Regions from separate parts of the Homo sapiens genome. Here all the other regions are linked to region 2. Evidence: fine-mapped expression QTL. A gene starts in region 2. Each other region holds a variant in brackets. All regions are shown on one strand. Distances are between the middles of the regions. Region 1 overlaps MDGA1 (MAM domain containing glycosylphosphatidylinositol anchor 1). Region 2 holds the start of MDGA1 (MAM domain containing glycosylphosphatidylinositol anchor 1). Region 3 has its middle 48 kb from the start of MDGA1.

Region 1 (8,417 bases), 60 kb before region 2:
GGATTGGAAGGTCCTCTGAGGGAAGCAGGCACAGGGTGCCTTGGGAACCCCAAAGAGGGAGCACTTGGGGCTATTCATCTCTGGTGCTCCAATGCCTACCCCAGCGAGGGCACAGAGGAAGCACCCAGGTGGTGCCAGGCCAGTGGTTCCTGCTGTCAGGAGAACCCAAGGAGCTTTTCAACATTTCTTGATGTCCGACTGCGCTCCAGTCCAATTAACTCAGAACCTCTGAGGTGGGAACCAAGCAGCAATACTTTTTAAAGGACTCTGGTGGTTCTATTCTGCAGGCAAGGCCAGGAACCACTGATTACAGAATCCATTCCACCGGGCAATGGAGTGGTTTCCACACCAGGCTCACTTGTGCTGGGCACGAGCGGGAGGTGGCGAAGGTGGAGGGGGGACTTGGAAGGCTCAGAGGAGGAGCTCACAGTCTAGTTGGGGCAATGGACTCTGCACAGATGGGACAGTTAAGGAACAATACCCGACAGACGCGATGGAAGTGTATGCTGAGAACCTGGAGCGACTCATTTCAGACAGAGGCCTTGACTGGGTCAGGAAGGCAGCCGTGCTGATTGGGCATCAGAAGGCCCCGCTGCATCCTGGCCCGGCCACCCACCAGCTGTTGGTGATAATGATCACACAGGCCTGGCAGGGGGAGATGGGCAGCCTTTGCCTCGGTTCCCCGCCTGCCTCCTGGCACTGCAGTGCTGCCCGAGTTCCAGGCCTCTTCTCTGCAGCTGTCCCCACCAAATGCTCCAGAAGGAGCCCTGTGATGCTCCTCACCAAAGGTGCTTGCATTCAATAGGGTCATCTGTAAGCTCTCCGTCATCCATAGGGGATGAAAGGTGGAATTTCAGGCCATCGCAGGCAGCTTGAGACTACAGAACAGGGCTGGACAGAGTCTATTCAGCCAGCACCCTACAAGCGAACACATCACTCAGGAAGGTGGACACACACGCTGACGTACACGGACATTCATAGAAACGAATGGGTCTCAATCCAGTCTCACAGGCAGATATGTGAGATTGCACACACAGACCTGTGTTTGCACACACTCCTGCCCAACAATGTACCCACGGTGGTACCTAGACACAGACGGGCACAAACACATACACACATATGCACGCATGCCTAAAGAGTCATTCTAGAAGGGGCTGGGCCTTCTCTCTCCCATGGATGGCTAGGTGGGGGCTCAGGTGATGTCAAGGAGGAAAGATCTAGATCCCATCATGTCAATCTCAGGTGCCTAACCCAGGACCCAAGGACAGGGATCCCTTTCACAGCTCCCAGAGAGTGAGGGGACTGGCACCTGCTCCCTCCACCAATCCCAGCTCTATAAGCCCCTCCTCCTTCACTGCCCCTGGGTGGAGAAGGGAACTTTCAACTAGACAGTGCTTTTTGGCATTTTGCCCTGTACACACCCTCCTATCCAGGGCACCCTTTCATGCCAAGTAGATAAGAAATGAAGGCCCCTCTCCACTTCCAAATTCATTGTCTGATATGGGGGCACCAAATCACAGAAGCGGGACGTCTCTTCTGCCTTTCTCCAAGTCAAGCCTCACCCCAGAAAATGGGCTGGCCACCGCTCCCCCAGCTCCTCTGAGACCCAGCTGGGGGCTGAGGCTAGGAGAGAACCGTGTTCTCAGGAGTCCCACTGCTTGTAGGGTGGAGTGGGGAAGTTATCAGTCTTCAGACTGCCCAGGCCCAAGACCCTGTGCTGGGTCCCTTCAAAGGGTGCACACTGAGGAGGGAAATATGGTGTCCCAGAAATAGGTCAAGGAATCTGGGGTGACCTATGGTCTCCACCATCCAGTGCTCACTCTGGACAGAATCGTGTGCAGCAGGTGCCCTACCTTCCTTGTCTCCTGGACGTGGGACAGTCACAGAGCTCGCAAAGTCCCACCTGTTCGTCCTCTGATCCCTGCCTCTCCCATCTCAGGAGTCCCAGAGTCTGACCAAGGGAGGGGCTCCATGTCTGCCCCACTTCTGGCTCCCTTCTGGCAAAGCCACCAGGCTGGAGTTCGGCCTTGACTTAGGGGACAGGGTAAAGTCAGAAGCACACCACGAGTGCAGCAAGGACAAGGCCTATGTTGCGCCGAGGTCCCTGGGTTGGCGGATGCCATTCAGGCAAGTCCCCTGTCTTTGCAGTAAAGAAGGTGCTGGCAGGTCAGATAGAAACTTGTGCTTTAATATATCTCTGTGTGTGTGAGCATGAGTGTGTGCGTGTGTGCAAGTGGAACAGCTGTCTCCAGGGCCTCAGTGCCTGGCCTCTGTCCTTGTTCTCTGCTCATCCTTGCAGCCAATGCAGGCCCCCTCCCTGGCGGGCCGGCCCTGCCCCTGGGCACCCCAGCTGGCGGGGGTCAGTCTTTGGTACAATGTGGACACTTTGGTGTGCCGGGGGCAAGGTTGGGGGGGTGGCCACACAGCTCTCATCATCTCTGCAACGCCAAGAGGAAGATGGCCATGGGCCCCCACAGCTGTGGGCTGGACTGGCAGGGGGCTCCACTGCCCGGCATCACCACCACTGCAACAGGGGAGAAAGAGGAGACAGGCCAGGGCTCTGGTCAGCTCTGGCAGGGGCAGGAAGTGGCAGGCAGGTCGGCACTGTTACTCTGCCCACCTCTTTGGAGGGCCTGAGGGTGGGCACTGGCCTCAGTGCACACAGACAAACTCACCGCACAGACATGAGGTGGCGTGGGGTGGGGTGGGGGTTAGCTCAGCCTGCCAGGGTTCACATTCACTAAGACTTGGAACAATTTACTTGACCTCAGTGGGCCTCAGTTTCCTCATCTGTAAAATGGGTCCAATGGTGTGTACTACCCCAAAGGACTGTTGTGAGGATTAACTGTTGTGAGGTAAGTGAAACATGCATATACAAGTTTGTGTGCCTTGCCTGGTACAGAGTAATTGCTCAGTAAGTAGGAGCTGTTAGTATTGGAAACCTCTGGCCCTGGAAGGCACACGTTCACCTCTGGAGCCAGAGGTACGCACAGATGTATTCAGACACAGGCACAGGAGGCGCTCTGATACCGTGAACAGGTCAGTATGCTCATCACGAGGGTGGGGGCCAGGCTTCTCATTGTTTACACAAGTACACAGCCTGAGTGAGTGTGGGGCACACCTTCACACAGTCAGAGCCACATGATTCCCATCACTCAGACATTCTGAACCCCTATTCAGACCCAAACACCCTCCCTCAACAGACAGGAACCCCCGCCACGCACAGCTCCCTCCAGATTCAGCTCCCCCACCTCCTTCCCGTCTTGCACCTTTATTGGGATCCGTCTGCTTCCGGGGACACTCCCCCTTCTTCAGTGTGACGTCATCTATGGCAATATCCCCCAGGTAGCCCGGGCCTCGAACCCCCTCAAAAATAATCTGGGGTGGGGTCAGAAAGCAAGGAGCAAGGGTTGAGGAGGTTCTGCTGGGTACCAGAGTGCTCCCTCGACCCCACCTTTCCCCTTAATCTACCTGGAAGTTCCCCCTAACCTGACTCTTTCCATCCTTAGCCCCCAGGAAGAAGGACAAGGTTTTCCTAAGTGTTTCCTGGCCACAGCAACCACCGAAGCCGGGGAGGGTCCTCTGGGCCCTACGGACTCACCTGGAAGGGCCCACTGGGGCTGATGGGCACATGGGCCTGCTGCCACACATTGCCCTTATTGCCACTGAGAGACCAGGCGTGCGTGTCCAGAGCCCCTTTGTTCCGGGACCGCACCAGGAGGTTGAGGGAGCCTGCGGTGGGTGTGAAGACAGTGGGCAGTGAGATCTGGCCAGGGCACCCTCACCTTTCCACATTTACCAAGCCCTCTTCTCCCACCATAGCCTGCAGCCCTGTCCCTGTTGACAGGACCTCCTCCCCATGCCCAGCTGGGTGCAATGTCCCATTCCTGCAGGGACACCCTCAGTGTGGGAAAGAGAAGACTTCAGCAGGATTTCATTTCATCAGGATGACTTGCAAATTTTCTTTCATTTCTTTCCTGCCCTGCTAATCAGCTAATCTCCCCAACCCCAAACACACACATGCACACACACCCTACCCTTCCCCTCTAGGCAAGGGAGCTGTCCCAGGGCAGTGGGACCTCTGTCTGGGCACGCAGCAGGGTTTCCAAAGAAAACAGTGTGTCCCTGTTGGCAGTACATGACTTGTGGAGGGAGATGAAGGGCTTTTAAAATGTTTAATACCCAGTTGGCAAGAGGAGTATGTTGGGTCCAGTAAGGCCCAGTAAGGTCCAGTAATACCCAGTTGGCAAGAGGAGTATGTTGGGTCCAGAAGGCCAGAGAGGACAGTCTGTGTGACTGTCCGTGCTCTGCATTCCCCATGGGGTGGAATAAACACCAGCAAGTGAAAGCTTGCAGGAGGCAGATTTGAACTGCATCTAAGGAAGACCCTGGATGTATCGGATTTGCCCAGCAAAAGAGTGGGCTGTCTTGGGGGAGCATCCTGTCCCTGGACAGGACTATCCAGCAGGGCTGCTGCGGAGGGGACCCCTGTCTCCAATCATGTTACCCCCTCTGCTCAGTCTCCTTTGAGGCTTCCCATCGCTGTCCTTCTCCTGGCCTTCCACACCTGATCTGGGCGCTGTCAGCTTCTCTGATCTCATTTGCTGCCACTCGGGTCTAGCAAACTGGTATCCTTGCTTTTCTTTCAACACTTGAGGGCCAGTTCCTGCCTTAGGGCCTTTGCTTGTGATGTTGCCCCTGCCTGGAACATTCTTCCCTCCCTCAAGGAAGTCCCTGACCACCCCATGTAAAATAGCTCTCTGTTCTTTTTTCTGCATTATTTTCTTTATAAGGCTTGGCACCAGTAGACTGTAAGCTCTTCAAGGACAGGGGCCTTTGTCTTGTTCTAGTGTCCTAGAACAGTGCCTGGCATATAATGGTGCTCAATTAGTTAAGTGAATGAATAGATGGATGAATAAATGAATGATAGGATTTGGTCTTCATGAACCCTGAGGTCCTTCCAACTCTGAGATTCTATGAAAGTCCTTGATAAGAGTTACGGAAAATTCTTCATTCAGAATTTAATTATTGGAACTGATAGGAGTTTGACACAGACCTTCCTGCAAGGAGTCAAATAGGGAAGGGAAGATGTGAATCCCAGGGACTGCCATACCGCAGAGCAGAGAGTGGTCTGGGCCTGGGGAGCTGTACGTTAAGGACTCAGAGTTCACCGGAAGGATAGAGGGCTCCCAGCTCAAACCTAGGAAGACTTCTGGAGGAGGTGGTGTTTTTGACAGCCCTTGAGGAGTGGGAAGGATTTGGCCAGGGGAATGTGGTAAGAGGGCATGTTAAGCAGAGGGAATAGGCTGAGCAAAAGCCCAGAGGCTGGAAAGCTGGAGTCTATCCAGGCACTAGCATACAGTTCTGCTTGGCTTTAGATGTGGCAAGACAGATACGGAGGAGTGTAGTGAGCAAAGCTCATTCTTTTTTCGGAGGGGGCGGTGCGGGGACAGGGTCTTGGTGGTACAATCATGGCTCACTGCAACCTCAAACTTCTGGGCTCAATAATCCTCCCACCTCAGCCTCCCAAGTAGCTAGGACCGTAGGCACGCACCACCACACCTGGCTAATTTTAAAAGTTTTTTAGTAGAGATGGGGTCTCGCTATGTTGCCCAGGCTGGTCTAGAACTCCTGGCCTCCAAAAGCACTGGGATTACAGGCGTGAGCCACTGAGCCTGAACAGGCCCTTTTCAAAAGGAAGGTTGGGGGTCCTGGATGTCCTCTGTAAAGGGATGTCAGGAAGCCCCTGAGCAGGGGGGACATTGGAGCTGATGGGGTGCTGAGGGGAGGGGACGGTGAAAAAGCAGCCTTCCCCATCAGTGTCCTTGGGGCAGGGCAGTGGAGGAGGAAGAAATGGTATGGGAATTGAGGCTAGATCCCAGGGGAATGGGGACAGGGGGCATATCTCCAGGAGGGAGAAGAGAGAGCCGTTCCTTTGGGGCTGGTGAGGATCCTGGAAGACACTGGGGCTTGGGCCCTGTGAAAGCCAGGGTGAGTACCTCCTGTTCTACTGGGTGCTGGCACAGCCTCTCAAGGTCCCACCCCCTGCTGGCGAAGGTGCCTCCACATGCCGGGAAACTTCAATGTGCTCCTCTGCCTGGCTTTGCCATGGGGGACAGGGTGTTTCTTGCTATCCTAGTTCCTCTTCCCTCCTCCCCTCCCACTCTGCCTGGCAGCTCTGGGCACCAGCTGTCCCCAGACCTTGTGTCTTGCTGGCTCTCCTTGGTCCAAGCCAACTCATTTCATCCCAGGCAGGTAACA[T/C]TTGGTGGCTCTCTCCCACCAGGGGGTCTGTCTATCTGGTGTCACAGATGGTACACCTTTGTCTATGGGAAGTGCCATGGAAATGCCAGCCAACGGGCACCATCTAAGATTGATTCCCCTTCCCTCAGAGCCAGGTATCTCATATCACTGCGGGCTGGAGGTGAGCTGGAAGGGACAGGGAGGGGGCATTGGTGTTGTCTGGGCACTCTTAGCCAAGTTCTGATCACCTCCTTCTCCTCTAGCACCCCTCAGTTACCCCAGAATTCCAGGTCCCTATGGCTATGGGCAAATGGGCTGAGCACCCCCAGGCTAATGCCTCCAAAATCTCCCCTTTCGCTATCTTGACCAAGTTATGTAACACATGTGCTAATATCTTTCTTTAAACTAACTCACTCTTTTTTTCTTTTTTGAACTTTGTCATAAGCATCAGTATTAGAGAAATACTGAGTTTTAAGGGCTAGCTTTATTCACCACATAAAACATAGCCAGTGCTAAAATTAGGAAAGATGGGAGTAAACCCAAATGAACTGGTTGTCCTACCTGGGGAAGCCAAATGGAAATGAGAGGACTCGGCAGGGTGGTGGAGTCCTGGTCATCCACTCTCACCTACCCCAGAAGAAGCTTCTTATGAAGTCCAGACCCAGCCACGGGCAAAATGATCTGTGCAAATGGTTTGGGAGCCCCAGTGGATGCAGAATCTTCTATCCCACTCCATTCTTGTTCATCAGTTCAGCTTGACCCATCACCCTAGCTGTGGAAACTTCTCCACGATGAGCCTTTATATCTACATTTGCTTAAAGTCACTCCGTCTACCATTACGGCTGAGGAAAACAGTGAAGATGCTTTCTGTGGACTGACAAGGAATAATCACCAAGATGATGTACAATTCAGAGGGAAAAAGCAAGTATAGGATGGTATGTGTAAAATGGGAGGAAATAGATTATATATATGTATATATATATATATATGTACTGGTTTCTTTCTTTTTTTTTTTTTTTTTGAGACGGAGTCTTACTCTGTCACTCAGGCTGGGAGTGCAGTGGCGTGATCTCGGCTCACGGCAACCTCCACCTCCTGGGTTCAAGCAATTCTCCCTACCTCAGCCTCCTTACAGGCACCTGCCATCACGTGAGCCTGGCTAATTTTTGTATTTTTAGTAGAGACGAGGTTTCGCCATGTTAGCCAGGCTGGTCTCGAACTCTTGATCTCAGGTGTCCCGCCCGCCTCGGCCTCCCAAAGTGCTGGGATTACAGGTGTGAGCCACCTCACCCGGCCATATGTACTGGTTTCTATTGGATAAAGTATCTCTGAAAATTTGCCCTAAAATCTAGTCTATTAATCACCTTTGGCAGATCAACTGGGATGGGAGGGCGTCTGCATTATGTGCCCTTTTGTACCTTTTGGCCTTTGTGAAATGTATTACCTTTCCTATAAACAAGTAAACAAACAAAAACAATTTTAAAAAAATCATGATGTCCTCAGCAGAGTCTTCCATGACCATGCCGCGGGGTCAGGCAGGTCTCCCTGTTACCACCAGTCTCAGCCCCTGTCCTTCCACTGCCACAGGGGTCACTAACTCCTGGCTGGTAGCATGAGTTGTTTAATACCTGTCTCTCCCACTTGCCTGTAAATGCCAAGAGGATGGGGAACTCGTCCACCTCGTTCACTACAGCACCTGATACCTGGAACTGAGCAGGAGCTCTGGAAGTGATGGCTGACACTGGTTATGTGACGCTCCTACCAGTACCATTGCCTGCCAAAGGGCACTCCTTATGTTCACTCCCTCACTTGGGAAGCAGGACTTCCTCTCACTGCCCACAAAGAAGCACCCTTCCGATCTCATGTTTAGGGCTTGGAGAAGTCACACAGATCTAGCTTACTGTGTGGTCTGGGAAAAATGCTTGACGTCTCTGAGTTGGATGGTAACACTTCCCTCATCTGGTGGCTGTGAGGGTTAATGCAATCAAGGATGCGGCGCACCCAGGACATCACCTGGCAGTCACTCCATATTTGCATCCTCTTAGTTGTCTTCTCCATCCCCTCCACTTCCATCTCATCCTGCTGGAGTCTTTTCTTTTTCCTTTTTTTTTTTTGAAATGGAGTTTTGCTCTTGCTGCCCAGGATGGAGTGCAATGGTACAATCTCAGCTCACTGCA
Region 2 (7,880 bases):
AGGAGCATGTCACCTCTCAGACACCCTTCAGGACACCCCTTCTTCTTGCCAGGCACAGGCAGATGGGTCAGCACCCTCCAGGGTGCTTTAGCCTCAGCACCTGAGGCTGGCAACCAGTAGTCAGTGCCTATACTACCCCACAAAGAACAGGTCAACCTCCCCTGGATCTAAAAGAGGAATCATTAGTCCCTCCACCCAACAGAAAAGGAAAGAGAGAATCCTGCCCGCCCCAGCCACACATCACTAAAAAGGGACCTGGACAAACCATCCTGCAGTAAAGAGAAAGCAAAGTAAGGGCCACTGGGCCCCTGAGAATGATTTTTTGTGCTGTGGGGTTAAGGCACTGCGGGAGGCTGAGCCCAGGTGACTGAATGGATGATGCCTGCCCCGGGCCTTCCCTGGGAAAACCCACAGGATGGAAGGGGGAAGGGGTAACCAGAGTCTCCCTTGGTAACCACAGCGAGGCGTGCGGACGCAGGAGCAAGGCTGCGTGGCAGGAGGCAGAGTTTGGACACGTATCCCGGTGGGTGCGTGCCGTGTTTGCGTTTTCTGGGGATGGTGGCTGAATGTATCTGTGTGTGCGCGCAGGAAGGAAGGTGGGGTTGGGGTTTGTAGCCAAGAACCGGGGACAGGAAGAACTGGTTCAGGGAAGGTCCGAAAAGGGATGCCGGGGTCGAAGGCGCCAGGGCCAGGGGATGCCGGCATCCTGATCAGGGTGTCAAGCCCTGAGTAGAAGAAGCGAAGCCGCAGCAACAGCGGGGAAGGCGAGCCCGCCGCCCGGCCTTGGTGCTGACAGCCGGCTCGCCCGCAAGCCGCGCGGCAACTCCGGCTCATGCATCGCTTGGCTTCCACTCCGGAGGCCGAGCCAGGACGAGGTTTCGGTGCAAGTCGCTGCACCAGTCCTAGACTGGGTCTGTCCGGGTCTCCCGAGCCGACCGGGTGCTCTCAAGGGTTCCTAATCATTCCCACCTCTAGCAGGGTGTGGGAAAGTGGGTGCCTCCTCCTGACATCCCGGCTTCCCACCAGACCCTACGACCGGCCCCTGTGTTCCGAAGCAGCTAGCTCGGTCTCCACGCGCCCTGGAGAGGGCGGGGACGCGGGCATCCACTCCAGAGTCCGAGTCGAGGTCTCCACCAAACCCCGGCAGCGCGCACTTTGCGCCTCTTGCAAAGTTTCCGCGCGAGGTTAAGCCAAGGTGGAGCGGGACGCGGGCTCTTACCGTAGACTCCTTGTCCCCGGCAGTGGAAGGGGATCAGCGCCAGAAGTAGAAGGCAGGTCACCTCCATCTTCACGGCCGGTGCTTCATCCCCGCGAGGCGGCGCAGCCCGAGAGGCGGCGGGGGGCGCATTCGCCGGGGCCCCGCGACGCCCCTATGTCCCCCCCTTTCCCTGAGAGGTGAGAGAGAGAGCGGCGACGAAGACCAGGAGACTGAAGAGGCGGAGGTGGCGGCGACCCGTGTTTCTCCTCCGGCGGGGCCGCTGCCCGCGTGGGGACGCAGGGGGCGCTGGCCCAGCCCCGGGTGCCTCGGCGCGCCCGGCACAGCAGCCAGCGCCCCGACCCGAGGAGCCCGGCCGCCGAGCCGCCCCGGGTACCCAGGGCCGTCCGCGCGGGATGCTAGGCGCCGGGGACCTCTCGGCGGCGGAGGCGGCGCTTCGATCCAACAGGCCACGGACGACTGACAAACTTGTCGTTTCCCCGCACTGGGGCCGCCCCTCAGCGGAGCGGAGTCGGGGAGGCCGGGGCTCCGCTCGAGTTAATCAATCTGCTGTTTCCAGTCCTGCGGCCGCTGCCGTGGGCTCAGCGGCCCGACTCCAGGGGGCCGGGCTGAAAGCACTCGCGGCGGCGAAGCAGCCCCGGGCCCGGCCCTCCTGATCCGGGGAGCAGCGCGGGCTGGGTTCGGCCGAGGGACGAGCGCCGCGGGTCCCCGGGTCCGTGAAGTTAGCCGAGCCGCCGATAAACCCGGGGGAAGAATAGCAGCCCGGCGCCCCGCGGGAATCTGGAGAGCAATTCCAGGCAAGAAGGGCCCCAGAAAACGGGGAAAGGAGGAAAGTTTGAGTCTTTTGAAAAATATTCGCGCTCTCGCCCAGGCCGGGGCTGCGGCGCGGGCGCCGCTCGCCGCCTCCGCTCGCCGCGCTCCTCTCCCGCCGTCTGGCCGCGGCCGTAGCCCTCCCGGGCTCCGAGCTCTCGGGAGAGCGGGGCTACGCCGCGCCCCAAGTTGGTCGTCCCCGCCCCCGCCCGGCGGCCTTGGCCTGCGGGGGCCCAGAGCGGGCGGGGCCGGGCCGGGCTCCGGGGCGCGGCGGCCGCTCGGCTCCGGGCCGCGGGAGCGCTCCGCTCGCTCAGCAACTTGGGCTTTGCTGTGCTGCTTTTTCGCCCCTCCGAGCTTTTCATTCCGCGCTCCTCCCGCCTCCCTCCCTCTCTTCCTCCTCCCTCCTCCTCGCGTCTCCTCGTTCGGTCTCTCGCTCTCCCACCCGTTGTCGCTCGCTCTCCTGTTTGATTCCCCTCCAGTTAAAAAAAGGAGCCAATTAAAGGCAGCCCAGCTCGCCTGGCCCAGCCTCTGTCCAATTTCCTCGCCTCCCCCAGGACCAATTAGAGAAAACAAAACAGGGCTGGGGGAAGCTGACTGCCTGCCTTTCTCTTTCTCTTTCTCTTTCTCTTTCTCTCTCTCTCTCTCTCTCTCTCTCTCTCTCTCTCTCTCTCTCTCTCTCTTTCTCTCTCTCTCCTCTCTCTCTCTTCTCTCTCTCCTCTCTCTCTCCCTCTCGCTCTCTCTCCCTTCCTCTCCTCTCCTCTCTTTCCCTTTCTCCTCTCCCTCTCTCTCTCTTCCTCTCTCCGCCCCCTAACATTCCCCCCCAACCCCGCCCAGCAGGAAAATGTCAGAAAGCAGAAATGGATCCATCTATCCCGAGGACAGTGGCGGAGGGACCTGGGTTTCGGCGGGGGCTCTGCAGCCGCGCGCTCGCACACTCGCTGTTCTCCAGCCTTGCACACCCAGACTAGCTGGCCGAGCCGGGTGCACCGTTGCCAGCAGCCCGCGGGGCAAACACGGCCGCTCGCTTCGGAGACCCATGCCCGCAGGGCACTGCACACTTCGTAAATGTTTTGCACTTTGGGGAGGCGGGACTGAAGCGGGGGTCCTAGGGAAAGGCCGGGCGCCTGCGGTTCCTGGGGTCCTGCAGCCGCGCGAGACGGGCCGCGGCTGTGGGTCTGCAAGGCTGTCTGCCCGGCTCGAGAGGCCCCCGCCCCTTTCCAGGCGTCTGGTGCTGGGGCCGGGCCGGAGCAGCTGGCGGAGAGGTCGCGCTGAGAGCTCCTGCCCTTGCCGCGGCCCACAGGTTGCCAACAGGTTTGCTCGCACGACCCCTCCGCCAGAGCTTCCCTAAGTCACCCCACATTTTCCTCGGCTAGCCACTCTTCCCATCTTGCCTCCCCTCGGGACCTCAGGCGCCCCCAAGCGCCCCGGGGGCACACCTCCTTCCGGCTGCCGAACCCGAGCCCCGCTCCAGCGGCGGGAGTCCGGCACTCGGGTCTCAGCCGCCTCGAAGGGGCCCTCGCGGAGCAGGAGTGCGGAGAACGCTCCTCCCAAACGCCCGCGGGGAGGGGCGTAGGCTGGCAAGCGAGGCTGGTGGCCTCCCCCGCGCCTCCGATCCCGCCCCGCGCCCAACCCGGGTCCTGCTAATCTCACCTGCTCCACCTGTCGCCGTTATTTATCTCAGCGTGTGCGCAAGAATTGTTTTAGGTCGGCCCGTGGGAGCGCAGACAATCGCAGCAGCTAACAAGCGGGGAGACTACGAACCCCCCCTCCCTTCGCCCCCTGGAACTGCTCAATATCTTGATGGTGGTTCCACGGCTCTATGCATTTGTCAAAACTCAAAGATCTCCACACTCCAAAAAGGTTAGTCTGCATATAAATTGAAACATAAATTTTTTTAAAATAATAATAATGAACCGTCCCTTCCCCAGGCCCATTTCCTGCTGGGTCTCTCCTCCCTTGACTCTCCAGGGCTTAAGCCCCACCGGAGCGCGCGCTCCTGACTGCTGGAAGAGGAGCGGGAGGTGTCGGGAAGTGCCTGGTGGCATGGGGGGGTTCCACCTTCCTTTCTCAGCCCCCTTTCTGTCCATCTCAGGAAGCCCGAGAACATCCGAAGATTCCTATTCTCTAGCCCACCTCCACTCGTTTGCGCCTCCCTTGTGCCCTCTTCCGTCTTTTCTCTCCTTTCTACCCCGTGGGTCCAAGGCTGATAGGAAGTCCAGACTCAGTGCGGTGCTCCCAGCAGATGCCAGCTGCAGACATGTTCAGTGAATTCACGAATGATGCCCATCATGGCCAGATATCACAGACCTGGGATACCCTCAGGGTAGCCATCCTTTCACTCCCCAGCCCCGGACTGTTACCTCAAAGGCAAAAAATTCATTTTCTGTCCCACAGAGATACACAGCCACCATGCCTCTTCCCGCCTCCCCCATCCAGTCAGAAAAGGAAGTGGTGCCAATTGAGGGAGTGATGAGGGATAGCTTCTTCTATTGTCATCCTCTTCCCATTATTAGAGGGTTCCTGGAAGTCTCTACCCCTTCCAGGAAGCTCTCAGGGAGTGATCACAGCGACTGTGGCTCTTCCTGGCTTTGCCCATTCTGAGCTGAATGTGTACTTCTCCATGTCGTGCGAAACTGCGCTCTGATTTTCCAATTAGCTGTTCCAACACCAAACAGCAGTCAATTGCTCCTCTTTGGCTTTGGGGTGAGTTACTGGGGACAGAGAACTGCACTGACTCAGCTGACATTCTCTTGACTTTGCCCTCTCTAAACTCACACACTAGCCTGGAGGAGAAAGAAGGTTCATGATGGCGGGGTGGGGGGAACAGAGGACCAAGTTAGCCAGGCTGGGATTGAACATTTGCTGTAGCTAATCCACTTGTGAATACTCTGCAGCTAATTGTATGCAGTGTAAATACCTTGACAGCCTGTTTGTGTGTGTCTGTAAATTCAGCTGTCTCCTCCCCCAAGTGTGCCCTGCCTGCTGCCTCAACACAGCCCAGTGTCTGACAATGGGAGGCAACCTCAGAGAAGGGAAAGAGCCCTAGACATCAGTCCTGCGTCCCAGTCCTAACCTCTCTAGGCCTCAGTTTCCCCAGATGTAAACTAGGTAAGATCCCTGTCTTCCTAGAGAGAAGTGGAGTAATAAGAATAACAGCTGACACCACATGCCAGGCACTGTATTAACTATTTAATCTTCATAACCATTATGTAAGACAGGGCTGTTATTCTCATGGAATGACATAGGAAGATGTAGTGACTCACTCAGCTGCTAAGGGGCCAAACTGAGCTTTGACCTCAGTAGCTTGGCTCGGCGACCTTGCCCTCTCCCACTGTTCTATACTGAAGAGGGGCAAGGGCCTAGGTATCAAATAATGTTTCCACAAGAACTGTTTCCTGTTCCCTTTACAGACACAGAGAACAATACTCTGGCCCCCAAATTGCACCAAGGGCAGGGGGGACATGAGAGCTAGACTGCTAGACCTGACATGGGCCATAGGGCACAGGATGAGCCTGAGGTCAGGCTATCTGGAGGCTTGGTGGTCAGCACCCAGCTGCCAAGTCTTCGGTTCCACTCAAGATCATTCTAGGTCACTTCCCACTAGAAAAAAAAATATATATATATATATGTGTGTGTGTATATATATATATATATATATATATATATATATATATATTTGCCTCAAAGAAAACCTAGCACTTGGGCCCCAGGAGGTTTCAGGAACTCGTTGCTGACCACAAGCCAGGGGCCAGGGAACCAGGGGCTCCAGGCATTGAGCAAGCAGGGCAACTGCGGTTTGTTGTGAGAGCATGTTACTAGAAAGCTCTCCCATCTCCTCCTGCCACTAGCTCGCCTCCGGCGAGTGACAGCCTGGAAGAGGAGAGAAAGAAAGAGAGAGAGAGGAAGAGTCTTTGCTAGATGGTGTTGTCGCCTTGTGAGAGAAATTGTCTCTGAAAATCATACAGTGGCAGGTATTGATTCAATCTCATTGCAAGACGCTTTCTGGTCATGTGGGGGAAGGATGACTGGGAGGGGTGAGGAACGGGAGAGTTATGACCCCGCTGAAAGACCAGTTTATTAATTCGGGCTCTAACAAATAGCCAATTAATGGCTTCAGCTGCTAATTAGCAGGCAGTTAACTCCTATTATAAACTGTGGTGGCTCAAGACTGGTGAGAATGCAATCCCACCATGATACCCGTGGAGAAAAGGGGCCCTGAAGATGCATGTCACTCACGGTTTGTAGCCCACACCACCCCCCTCCTCATCCCACACCCCCAGCAGACCTTCTGTTGGTAGAATGCAGGCTGCATGGGAGCAGGGACCTTGTCTATATGTTCACCATTCATTCATTTAACAAATATTTAATGAGTGCTTACTATGTGCCAGGCACTGCCCTAGGCACAGCAGACTCAATGTAAATAAATCAGACAAGAATCCCTGCCTTCATGGAGGCTATAGTCTAGCGAAGAGACAGACAATAGACTACACAAATGGGGAAAATACGGTATTTGGATAGTACAGGGTATGAAGGAGAACACTAAAGCTAGGGAAAGGAGTAGGAAATGTAAGAGCTGAACTGTCAGAGAAGGTACCCAGAAGGACCCCACTAACATTTCAGTCATGACCTTTAAGATTAGAGGGACCGAACCATGCCAGTATCTAGGGGGAGGACATTGCAGAGAGAGGGGATGGCGAGGACAAAAGGCCTTGCGGTGGTGAGGAGGACGTGGCTGCAGCTGAGAAGGTGAGGGGAGAGTAGGAGGAGCTGAGATCAGAGAGATTTAGGGGGCAGGTCATTCGAGTCTTGGGATTATTGCAGGATGTTGGGTTTTACTCTGAGCGCAATGAGAAGAGCTATGACAGGGTCTTGTGCAGAGCAGGGAAGGGATCTAACTTTACTTAGCAGGCTCACTCTGGCTGCTGTGTAGGGAATAAACTGAAGGGGGCACCACAGTATCCTCAGCAGCTGGCCCTGTGCCTGGCCAGTAGTAGGTGCTCAGTAAATCCTTATCATATGAGTTGATTAATGAATATTAATGGGGCTAGATTGCAAGACTAGGAACCATGCCCACATTTGAAAGGCCGATTTATTTAGATTGTCTTGTAAATTACAACCATCTCCATGGGTGCCCTCAAATTTGAACTTTCCAAAGAATTCCACATCCATTATCCTACCTGGTCCTTAAAATGTTCCTGTGAGGTAAGTTAAGACATGTGGCCCCCTCCATTTTATAGATGTGAAGACTGAGGCAAGGGGACATTCGCAGACTGGTTTAACAGAGTGTGACAGAAGTGACCAGTTCTAGAATCTTAGGTGTGGGGAAGAACGCAAAGGAGACAGGAGTCCCTCTCCCACTTCTGGCCACTATGTCACGACTACACCCTGACTCATTATGTGACCTTCCCCTTTTGGCCTCTGGATTCTCATTTCCACAATAAGCACATGTGCCTGGACCACCTCTGAGACTGCTCCCAGCACTAGACTCCAAAGCCTTGTGAGCTCTCTCCAAGGCCTGATATCTGGAGCCATCATTTCCCAAGTGAGGGTCACCTGGGCTTCCTTTGTCTACACTAATGTTGGAAAAGGGGAGGTTTTGTTTAATTTTTTTGAGTTGATGGTTCAGTAGATCACAAGTAATTTTGTTTTATACTGATTTGAGAAATTTATGGTCTTCCCACTCTGAGCAGGTGTAAGGGACACTGGTTTACCAGGCTCTGCTTCCCCACTGGGGTGGGTCTGGGAAGAAGCAAATGGGCTGGAAAAGTGGAGTTCTTTTGACTCTTCATTAACTTAACAAATATTCATGGACCCAAGCATTGTGTCTATATAATCCTGGGCACCCCATTGTGCT
Region 3 (11,152 bases), 47 kb after region 2:
GAGCATGCAGGATCTCATCAAATCCTTGCTAACAGTCTTATGAGGCAGAGGCTCTTACTACCTGCATCTCATTTTACAGGTGAAATGATATGATGTCTGGGACTGGTTTTAAAATACTTGAATAACAAAAAGGACAAGAATGGAGGGCGAGATAGATAAAACAACATTAAAACAATGTGGATAACTTGAAACTGGTTGTTGAATTCATAGGAGTTTATTATTGCATTTCTCTTTTTATTTAAATTTTCCATAATTAAAAATAAAATTTTAGGCTGGGCGCAGCAGCTCATGCCTGTAATCCCAGCACTTTGGAAAGCTGACGCAGGAGAATCTCTTGAGCTCAGGAGTTCCAGACCAGCCTGGGTAGCATAGTGAGACCTCGTCTCTACAAAGTAAAATAAAATTAGCCAGGTGTGTCGGTGCATGTAGTGGCGTGCACTTGTAGTCTCAGCTACTTGGGAGGCTGAGGCGGGAGGATCGCTTGAGCCCAGGAGGTTGAAACTGCAGTGAGCTATGATCACACCACTGCACTCCAGCCTGGTTGTCAGAGTGAGACCCTATCTCAAAAAAAAGGGGGGCGGGGGGAAATAAAATTGTAAAAGCGAAGCAGTACTGCTACATAGTATGTGCTCATTAAGTGTTTATTATTATTGCATAAAGATTAAATAAGGCCAGACACAGTGGCTCATGCCTATAATACCAGCACGGTGTTTGAGACCAGCCTGGCTAACATGGCAAAGCCCCATCTCTATTAAAACTACAAAATAATTAGCCGGGCATGGTGGCGCATGCCTGTAATCCCAGCTATTCTGGAGGCTAAGGCATGAGAATCACTTGATCCCGGGAGGTAGAGGCTGCACTGAGCCGAGATCACACCACTGCACTCCCAGCCTAGGTGACAGAGTGAGAAGCTCTCTAAAAAAAAAAAAAAAAAAAAAAAAAAAAAGGGTGGGGGGGAAATGAGATAACGTATATGAAGAACTAGTACAGTTCCTCTACTCCATAAAAGGTGGGAATGATGCTATTTTGCTATTACTATTATTATTATTACTAACTAGAGCTGGACCCTCCTTTTGGCCCTATTACTCTGCCCCTTTATCAACTGCCCTTTCCTCCTGCTCCAGGACAAGCCTCCTGTCCTGGTCTCTACCTGCTGGCTTCATCCCAGAGGGACCCCCCAGCACCTCCACCTGTCTGCCTTGTGTTCCTGGGAACCCCGTGTAGCCAGTGCACAGTAGGTAGAAACAGTATCCATCCTCTCCCCATTCAGCAAACATTTTTGGAGCCAGCCAGACATGGGAACCGTGGTGTTCCCTGGCTCCGACAGTGGGGTTGGGACTCCCCTGCTGGTCCCGACAGTCCCAGACGCCCACAGCAGAGGGCGGCCTCCTTGGGCTCTAATTTTAACCCCGAGGAAGGTGCCAATCGTTCATTTTCAAAGCTGTTTCAAAGTGACTCTGATAAGCAAATTGCTGGCAGCCCTGGCGGGTGATTATTCCTGCATTAATCAGGGGGAAATTATGCCAGTTACTGATTAACTAATTACAGCAATCAGATCGGCTGGGAGAACAGTGCAGTGGGAGGAGGACAAGGTAAACACAACCTGGGAAAGGTGAAGGAGGCAATTTGGTTGTGAACAGAGGACAGAGGCCGGAGCCCCCTTCCTGCCTCCTCTTGCCCAAACCACCCCAGCCCAGCTGGGGGACCCCTGAGGCCAAGCTGGCTGTCCAGTCTGTTGGGGCAGGCAGGGCTCATCCTCTGGGAATTAGTGTCCAGTGTGACAGGAGGAGCTGTCCTCTCCCAGCCTTTGCTGGGTTTCCCATCTGCCAGAGGACACAGGTGCTGGCCTTCAGGAGGCCCCTTTTTGGCAGAGGAGGCCGAGGTTCCTACATCCACACCACCCCCGTCCATCTGAGGGGGCACCCTGGAGGAACAGTTACGGCTTGGCTATTAAGACACAATCTCAGCTGGGTGCAGTGGCTCACTTTGGGAGGCCGAGGCGGGCAGATCACCTGAGGTCAGGACTTCAAGACCAGCCTGGCCAACATGGTGAAACCCTGTCTCTAATAAAAATACAAAAAAAGTAGCTGGGCATGGTGGCGCATGCCTGTAGTCCCAGCTACTCAGGAGGCTGAGGCACAAGAATCGCTTGAACCCGGGAGGTGGAGGTTGCAGTGAGCCGAGATCGCACTACTACACTCCAGCCTGGGCGACAGAGCGAGACTCAGTCTCAAAAAAAAAAAAAAGACACAATCTCAGAAGCTGGGAAACAAGTGACAAAAGAGGGTGACATGTGGCAGCCAGGGCTTCCAAGCACAGAACCCAAAAGTCACCCAGTTAGCCCAGTTAAGGGTCACCTGCCTCAGGTCACTGGCTCTCCTCTCTCACCCACAAAGACCATGGGAGGGGAGGGGAGGAGATGAACAGATAATTTTCTCCGTACTCCCAGCTGCAGAGCCATGGTCCACCTGAGAGGAGGAAAGGGGATCCTTCCAGAATACTTTATGCTCATTCCCCCAGTCCTGTCTCCCAAATGCCTCTGCTCATGTTTGTTTGGTGGCAGGGGTGTGTGTGACTAAAGTCAGAACCTGGTTGCAGTTTGCTGACTGCCACTTCACCCAGCACAGAAGTTACCACTGAATGAGAAGCTGATTCCGGACACAGCCGATGCCAGAGGACAGCCATTTTTCTCCCCATAGCCTACAATGTATGCGAGGGGGGGTGGGAGGCTTGATGTCCTCTGACTGCACAGGACTCTGGAGAGGAGCTAAGGGGTTCCCAAGAGGCCACTGCTAGCCTGTGTATATAGAGTCCAGTTACACATCTATAGAGCAGGTCTACAGGGTTCCTGCACTCAGACCTGAATCTCCCTCCTCCAGTAAAGTTCCTCTGCATGGAAAACTCTTCTTGAAGGTGTCCCTCTCCCCAAAGTTCAGGATGATTTCTCTCTTCCTGGGGTGGCAGACCCAGTGAATGGGTACCTGAGGATGGGTGAGGGCTGCCCAGCCAGAGGCTGTGGAGCAGGCTGCTGAGGTGGACATCAGCTGACACTGGGGGCTGTGGGGTAAAGGTCTCTCCCCATTTTGGGCACCTGTTCTCTTCAGGGTCCTGAAGAACTGTTTCTGCCCAGTGCTCATCCCATCCCAAAAGGATGATGTGACGTCCTGTGTGTAGGTTGTCCCTTCTGATCAATAGGAAGGGAACCGGAGCCAGTACCAGGGACACTGCATAGGCTGTGCCCTCTGGGAGGATGCACGGAGGGTTAGGTCACTTAAGGGCCATCAAACTTCCACCCTCCTCCTTCTTCCCTCGTACCTCCAGTTTCCACATCAGGGCTGGTGGGAGGATGGGCTGGGCCTGGCCTAACATGACCTGGGAACTGGCCGCAGGGCTGGGCAGGGGATGTGGGTGACATGACTCTACCCAACTGGAAGAGGGGTAAAGAGTGCAGGGAAAGAGAAAGATCCCAGCCCCAGGCATCTACTAGGAATCTCTACCATGTATTGAGCGCCTATGGCATGCTGACCTGAACTCCAGTTGATAAGTGAGGAAACTGAGACTTTAGCAAATTAAGTAGTTTACCTAAATGTTATTACTGGAACCCAGGGCTGCTGGCTCTCATCTATAACCACTGCACAATATTGCCGCCCACTCCTGTAAAATGGGGCAATAATGATACCGACCTCACAGGTTGATGTGAAGACAAATGAGACAAATGCTTGCAGAGAGCATCGGGCAGATTCATTGAACATCTACTATATAACAGGTGCTATCATGAGTGCCCAAGGAGAGGAACAAATGAGTGGCAGTCCCTGTCCTGGAGGAGCCCCTGGTCTAGTGCGGAAAGTGGATGCAGAAGAAATAAACCACCGGACCGCACAGTGCGTGCTCAGAAAGAGTGCCGAAGGGCCGGGGCGGTGGCTCACACCTGTAATCCCGGCACTTTGGGAGGCCAAGGAGGGCAGATCACGAGGTCAGGAGATCGAGAGCATCCTGGCTAACACGGTGAAACCCCGTCTCTATTAAAAATACAAAAAAAAATTAGCCAGGCGTGGTGGCGGGCGCCTGTAGTCCCAGCTACTTGGGAGGCTGAGGCAGGAGAATGGCGTGAACCCGGGAGGTGGAGCTTGCAGTGAGCCGAGATCGAGCCACTGCACTCCAGCCTGGGTGACAGAGTGAGACTGTCTTAAAAAAAAAAAAGTGCTGAAGACAGTAGAGGCGCAGGCAGAGGACTGCCCAGGCAAGGAGGGAAGATTTCTCCCGGGCAACAACTTTCGTGTGGCGTTTGTAAAGACAAAGTGGGGAGCAGGAAGGGCATGTTAGAGACAGGAACCAGACGCAAAGTCACAGAGGCAGGGAGTTTATGGTGAAAAGTGAGGGAATCAGTGTGTCCACATTAAGACTGCGGGGAGGAAGGAGGAAGCTCAAAGGATGACCCAGACAGATCCGAGAGGGCCTTAGGTATAAGGCTAGGAGATTTAGAATTCATGCTAGAATAGTAAGAGCCATGCAAGAGGTTTTTAAGAATATGTTTAAAATGGGGCAAAAAATAAATAATTAAAAAATACGACTATGTTATTGGGGATTTTTAAATTTCAGAAGTAATACAAATAATACTCTTTTCTTCTCTCTCTCTCTCTCGTTTTTTTTTTTTTTTTTTTTTTTTTTTAGAGACAGGATCTCACTATGTTGCTCAGGCTGGTCTCAAACTCTTGGACTCAGGTAATCCTCCTGCCTCAGCCTCTTATTTTTATTTTTTTTTTTTGAGACGGAGTCTCACTCTGTCGCCAGGCTGGAGTGCAGTGGTGCTATCTCGGTTCACTGCAACCTCTGCCTCCAGGGTTCAAGCAATTCTCCTGCCTCAGCCTCCCGAGTAGCTGGGACTACAGGTGCGCACAACCACGCCCAGCTAATTTTTGTATTTTTAGTAGAGACGGGGTTTCA[C/T]CATATTGGCCAGGCTGGCCTCGAACTCCTGACCTCATGGGCCGCTCACATCTGCCTCCCAAAGTGCTGGGATTACAGATGTGAGCCACCGTACCCGGCTTGTGGTTAGGTTGTAACTATAGAATTAAGTTCTAGCAAATGAGATATAACGAAAAATAATATAGGAGACTTTGAGGAAGTGACCTTTTAAGAAGAAGGAACATGATACTGTTGGTGCCTTCCTCTTTCCTACCCGCTGGAATGTTAAGGTGATGGCTGAAGCTGAAGCAGCCATCTTGAGCCATGAGGTAACCTTGGGAATGGAGGCCACTCATGGTGGATAGAGGGAACCTGGAGGATTTCTTGGAGTAGAACTACCACACCAGCCCCGAACCACTCACCTCCAGAAGGTTAAAGAAGAGATACATAAGAAATATGTTATCTTGTTTAAACATTTGTTGTTTGGCGGTCTTTTTTTCCTTTTATTCACAGCTGACCCTAATCTTAATATGACTCTCGCCACGTTTGTGCTTTTCCTTACCTATCCACAAACATATACAGGCCTGACACCACACCTGGCTAATTTTTTGTATTTTTAGTAGAGGCGGGGTTTCACTGTGTTAACCAGGATGGTCTCAATCTCCTGACCTCATGATCCGCCCGCCTCGGCCTCCCGAAGTCCTGGGATTACAGGCTTGAGCCACCGCGCCCAGCCCAGATTTCTTTAATGGGACCCAAACACACTTACCACTCTGCAACTTGATTTTTTCATGTACAGCCTTGTGAGTCAACAATTAGATATGCCTCCTTTTAAAATTTAATTAATTAATTTTTTTTTTGACAGAGTCTCACGCTGTAACCCAGGCTGAAGTGTAATGGCACAATAATGCCTCATCGCAACCTTGACCTCCCAGGCTCAGGTGATCCTCCTGCCTCAGCCTCCCAAGTAGCTGGGACCATAGGTGCATGCCACCATGCCTGGCTAATGTTTTGTATTTTTTGTGGAGATAAGTTTTCACCATGTTGCCCAGGCTCATCTCCAACTCCTGGGCTCAAGTGATCTACCCACCTCAGCCTCCCGAAGTGCTGGGATTATAGGCATGAGCCACTGCAGCAGACCTACCTCCTTTATAATAGCATCATGATATTCAAAAATTGGACCATAAAAACTTATTCAACCATGCCTCTATCAATGGACATTCAGGCTTCTGGGTTTTTGCTATCACCAGCAATGTGACAATAGATATCAAGTATGCCATTCTTGTGGGCTGGTGGTTTTGTTCTATTTTGTTTTGCTTCTGTTGGATAAATTTTACAAAAATAGGCTGCTGCTTTAAAGAGAATATGCACTTAGGCCATTCTGCCTTGAAGGCAGAATAGGAAGCTCCTTGAGTGACTTCCCAGTCTAGGAAGTGTCTCTTCTCCACTCCTGCCCCAACTCCTCCTCCTCCTCTTCCATCTCCTCTTCCTCATCCTCCTTTCCCCCAGAGGATATAAGCACTTTGACCCGACAGGTGGAGAGAAGACTTTGGCCACCTCTGAGAGAGGAGGCCACTGAAACTCACTCAGAGGCACAAGCTTTGGAAGTAGGTCATTTCCCCAAAGCAAACCCTGATGGTGAATGGGCCCTGGTCCCCTGCAGAGGCATAGGAAAGAGAGTTCAGAAAGGGATGCTGGGGGGCCAAAGACAGAACCTTAAGCAAAAACCCAGAGGGCCAAAGCTGAGATTCCTGGTATCGCTTGCTGCACAAACTCAGGCTCACTTCTCTTAACCCAGGAGTTCTTAGCTGTGAAAGGGGCTAACATCCCCTGGACCTTTTGCTCAGAATGGGCCTGGTCCAGGTCTTGCTTTTTTTTTTTTTTTTTTTTTTTTTGAGATGGAGTCTCACTCTGTCGCCCAGGCTGGAGTGCAGTGGCATGATCTCGTCTCACTGCAACCCCCGCCTCCCGGGTTCAAGCGATTTTTCTGCCTCAGCCTCCTGAGTAGCTGGGATTACAGGTGCGCACCATCACACCTGGCTAATGTTTGTATTTTTTTTAGTAGAGACGGGGTTTCACTATGTTGGTCAGGCTGGTCTCGAACTCCTGACCTCATGATCTGCCTGCCTTGGTCTCCCAAAGTGCTGGGATTACAAGCGTGAACCACAGCGCCCAGCCTGGTCCAGGTCTTTCTAACCCAGGGCTCCCACACTACTCTCCACCCCTGCCACCTTGTTCTCCTACTGTCCCCTCTACCACATGGCCCAGAAGAGGGGGAACGCTGCCCCTGCTTCAGTTTCCCTCCAATTCAGGTTTGAGGCCATCATCCTCTTCCCTGGGTAGGTAGCAGAAGCACAACTCTGGAGAAAAAGCTGAGCGCATAGTGGAAGAAGCCTCTGGTAGGGCTCTGGCGGGCTGTCAGGGGGCGATTTAGGGCGATTGCTTTCCACCAGGCACATTGTTTCACTGCAGCAAATATTTCCTCAGCGTTGCTACAAGACGTCTATTTGGCAAACCACAGAGGGCCTGCAGGCCCCACTCTCTACTGGTAAAGAGGCAGGCGGGCACTGCTGATGACTGGAGTAAATCTGAGCTCACAATTAAAATCTCTTTAGAGATTGCAGCCAAGTGACTGATGGATAGGACCCCAGGCTCCATCCATCCCCTCCACGCTCCTCCACCAAGACAGATATCGACAGGGCATCATAAATAGCCTCGCATATCCAGGGCTTGCAGGCTGGCAGGAGATGAGGTGGAGGAATTTAAGGAAAGGGCTGAATTGGGCTCTGTTCTGCAGGGTCCAAGCTGGGGGCTTTGTGCAAATCATCTTGGATGAGTGGGGAAAGTATTTTTATCACCTTTCTATAAATGAGGGAGCTGAGGCCCAGGCTACACAAAGACAGATTTCCTGAACTTGAATTTTGGAACCACACAAAACTATGTGTGGCCTCCTGGGGTCACCACATATTTTGCCCTCGATCACACTTTCCACCTGTCTGGAATGCCCATCCCTTCCCCCAGCACCTGCCATAGCAGGTGATGTTGGTGCCCAGCCCACACTCCTTCATTCTTACGGCTTCAGTGCGTACTAGTCTGACTCCCAACTGCTACAACCTGCATTTTTTTTTTTTTTGCTTGAAGGCTCTCTCTGGCCACCAGAGTCCATGTTGCCATCTGTGCAGCAGGCCAGGAGTGTGGGGTAATTAATGCCTCCCCAAGACAGCCCTCATCAGTGATGGATGGCAGGTGACAAGAGTGTAAATACCCCAACTCCTTCACCACTCAGTTGGGATAACTCTAAGGTGTGTTCTACACAGTCTCCCAGAGGATCCCAGAGGAACTGAGCCCCAATTGCCCGAAATGGCAACCTCTCATTGATGTACTCTGTATTGACTTCCTCCCTTTCCTCCAGGTCTCTCTTCCCCATTCCCCTGCCAGTACTCCCCGGGATCCTCCCAAATTAACTACTTGCACTCATTTCCTTGTTTTAGGATCTGCTTCTGGGTGAACCCAAGTCAAGACATCTATTCACATTTGAATTCTCAGCCCAGCTTGCTCTCCCCCAGGAAGCCTTCCCCACCCCTTTGCACCACAGCCAACACCATAAACATTGACATAGCAGCTCTAACTTTTTCTGGCATGTACTGGTGCCTGAATCAGTTTCCCTAGCTAGATAGGAGCACTTGAGGACAGGAATACTGCTTTATATTATCTCTATGTCCCCTGATATGGTTAGGCTTTGTGTCCGCACCCAAATCTCATCTTGAATTACAATCCCCACAATCCTCATATGTCAAGGGAGAGACCAGGTGGAGGTAATTGGATCATGGAGGTGGTTTCCCCCATGCTGTTCTCGTGATAGTCAGTGAGTTCTCACGAGATCTGACGGTTTTATAAGTGTTTGGTAGTTCCTTCTGTGTTCATTCTCCTTCCTGCCACCTTGTGAAGAAGACGTCTTGCTTCCCCTTTGCCTTCCACTATGATTTTAAGTTTCCTGAGGCCTCCCCAGCCATGCTGAACTGTGAGTCAATTAAATCTCTTTCCTTTGTCAACTACCCAGTCTTGGGCAGTTTTTTATAGCAGCGTGAAAACAGATTAATATACTCCCTGAGTCCAGCACAGTGCCTGGCCCACAACTAGGGCTCTTACTGAATAATTTACTGAGTGAATGAACCAGTGAGTGAATTAAGTGTTTTTGTCAATTAAGAGACCGTGGGTGAGGAACCTTTTCTTCCTACAGAGAAAGAAATATGCAAAGAAGAGCCGCATGAACAAAGAACAACTTAACTTAGCTTTGTTTTGTTTTAAACCAGGAATATAAAGCATCTTATTGATCTGCCTTTTAAATTAAGAACAGGAAACTGAAAGCCATTCAATAAATAAAACATAATAAAAACACTTCTGTTCCAGAGTATTGCTAATTAAGGGAGACAGAACAAAGGGGGAATGGGGAGGGGAAATGAGAGACAAAGAAGACAGGGACAGAGTCAGAGATAGCGAGACAGAGACTGAGGGACTGAGCAAGACTGCTGGGGGCGGTGGGTCATAGAAATGCAGTAAGAAACTTGAAGGGGAGGGAGAGCATTAGGACAAATACCTAATGCATGCAGGGCTTAAAACCTAGATGAGGGGCTGGGCACGGTGGCTCGCGCCTGTAATCCTAGCACTTTGGAAGACCGAGGTGGGTGGATCGCCTGAGGTCAGGATTTCGAGACCAGCCTGGCCAACATGATGAAACCCTGTCTCGACTAAAGATACAAAAATTAGCCAGGCGTGGTGGCGGGTGCCTGTAATCCCAGCTACTCAGGAGGCTGGGGCAGGAGAATCGCTTGAACCCGGGAGGCGGAGGTCTCAGTGAGCCGAGATCAGGCCACTGCACTCCAGCCTGAAGAACAGAGCGAGACTCTGTCTCAAAACAAACAAACACAAAAACAAAAAAAAAAACCCTAGATGACAGGTTGATGGGTATAGCAAACCACCATGGCACATGTATACCTATGTAATAAACCTGTAAGTTCTGCACATGTATCCCAGAACTTAAAAACAAACAAACAAAAAAAACTTGAAGCTGGAGGGCACTGTGCAGCTGGGCACCAGAGGCTGGGCAGCAGGAGGGGTGCAGCAGCAGAGGAAAGAGAATTTCTGCAGACATTTAGGAGCCAGGAGTAGAGGTCTGTTGTTAAGAAGGTGCCCACTGCAAATCTAGAAGGAAAGACGTGGAGAAACTTTTGAGCCTTTGGAAGCAATATTCTTTTTTTTTTTTTTTTTTTTTTTTTGAGACGGAGTCTCGCTCTGTCGCCCAGGCTGGAGTGCAGTGGCGCAATCTCAGCTCACTGCAAGCTCCGCTTCCCGGGTTCACGCCATTCTCCTGCCTCAGCCTCCCGAGTAGCTGGGACTACAGGCGCCCGCCACCGCGCCCGGCTAATTTTTTGTATTTTTAGTAGAGACGGGGTTTCACCTTGTTAGCCAGGATGGTCTTGATCTCCTGACCTCATGATCCACCCGCCTCGGCCTCCCAAAGTGCTGGGATTACAGGCGTGAGCCACCGCGCCCGGCCGGAAGCAATATTCTTAAGACTGGTCAGGACCAGCAGAGACAGAAGCTTCCTTGAGATTAGAGGTGAGGACAAACTGGAACACAAAAGGTGAGTCACAGGGGGGCCAGTCACCTACATCAGCCATTCAAATACCTAATGTGAATTGAGCATTTCCTACCTGTGAGGCCCTGTGGGCTAAGCGCTTTAGGGGCATAAGCACATTTAAACATTTTAACAACTCTGTGGGGCAGATACTATCATCAGCCCTAATTCACAGATGATAAAACTGAGGCTCAGAAATGTTAATTCACTTGCCCAACACATCATGCCCAGCATCTGACCCTTTGTCATCTGACTCCACAGTCTGTGCCTTAATGCATCCCCACTGTCACTGTGGAGGGGGAAAGGCCGCACCGGGAAAAGGAATAGCAGTTCTGGGGGGTTCATAAAACCCTAGCCTCTGAGAAACCGTAACATTTGACACTTCTAGTTTGAGGGTACTGGGGGAGTGTGGGCTGGGAATCTAGAAAGATGGGGGTGATATCTTCTGTGACTGCCATCACGCTGTCCTTCCAGGCCAACCCATCTATGGGACCTGCCTGGCCCGAAGTCACTGAGACCCCCAAAGCCTCGGGCTTGCCTCTTCTGAGATCAGGATCTCCTCTGCTCTCCCCACCCCCTTCAGGTCCTGCTCTGGGTCCTTCCACATCTCCT

Evidence for each region. PIP is the estimated chance that this variant, and not a neighbour inherited with it, causes the effect.
Region 1: its variant is fine-mapped to the expression of MDGA1 in cerebellar hemisphere (GTEx, PIP 0.98). The same link has a PIP of 0.9 or more in cerebellum.
Region 3: its variant is fine-mapped to the expression of MDGA1 in whole blood (TOPMed, PIP above 0.99).

Annotation. Positions count from the first base shown.
Region 1 is chr6:37,634,936-37,643,352 of GRCh38, forward strand. It overlaps MDGA1 (MAM domain containing glycosylphosphatidylinositol anchor 1), which reads right to left. Exons shown (of 17, transcript NM_153487.4): 15 at 3,602-3,732; 16 at 3,270-3,378; 17 at 1-2,524. The coding sequence ends at 2,433. Among named protein-coding and RNA genes, the nearest start is that of MDGA1, 59 kb to the right of the region's middle. The variant T/C (reference allele first, on the strand shown) is at 6,262.
Region 2 is chr6:37,695,526-37,703,405 of GRCh38, forward strand. It overlaps MDGA1 (MAM domain containing glycosylphosphatidylinositol anchor 1), which reads right to left and starts at 2,358. Exons shown (of 17, transcript NM_153487.4): 1 at 1,220-2,358. The coding sequence starts at 1,286. RefSeq lists enhancers at 252-981, 982-1,711 and silencers at 1,254-1,413, 1,444-1,733, 1,914-1,973, 2,034-2,163, 2,224-2,293 and 3 more.
Region 3 is chr6:37,740,786-37,751,937 of GRCh38, forward strand. No RefSeq gene overlaps it. Among named protein-coding and RNA genes, the nearest start is that of MDGA1, 48 kb to the left of the region's middle. RefSeq lists an enhancer at 9,196-10,017. The variant C/T (reference allele first, on the strand shown) is at 4,945.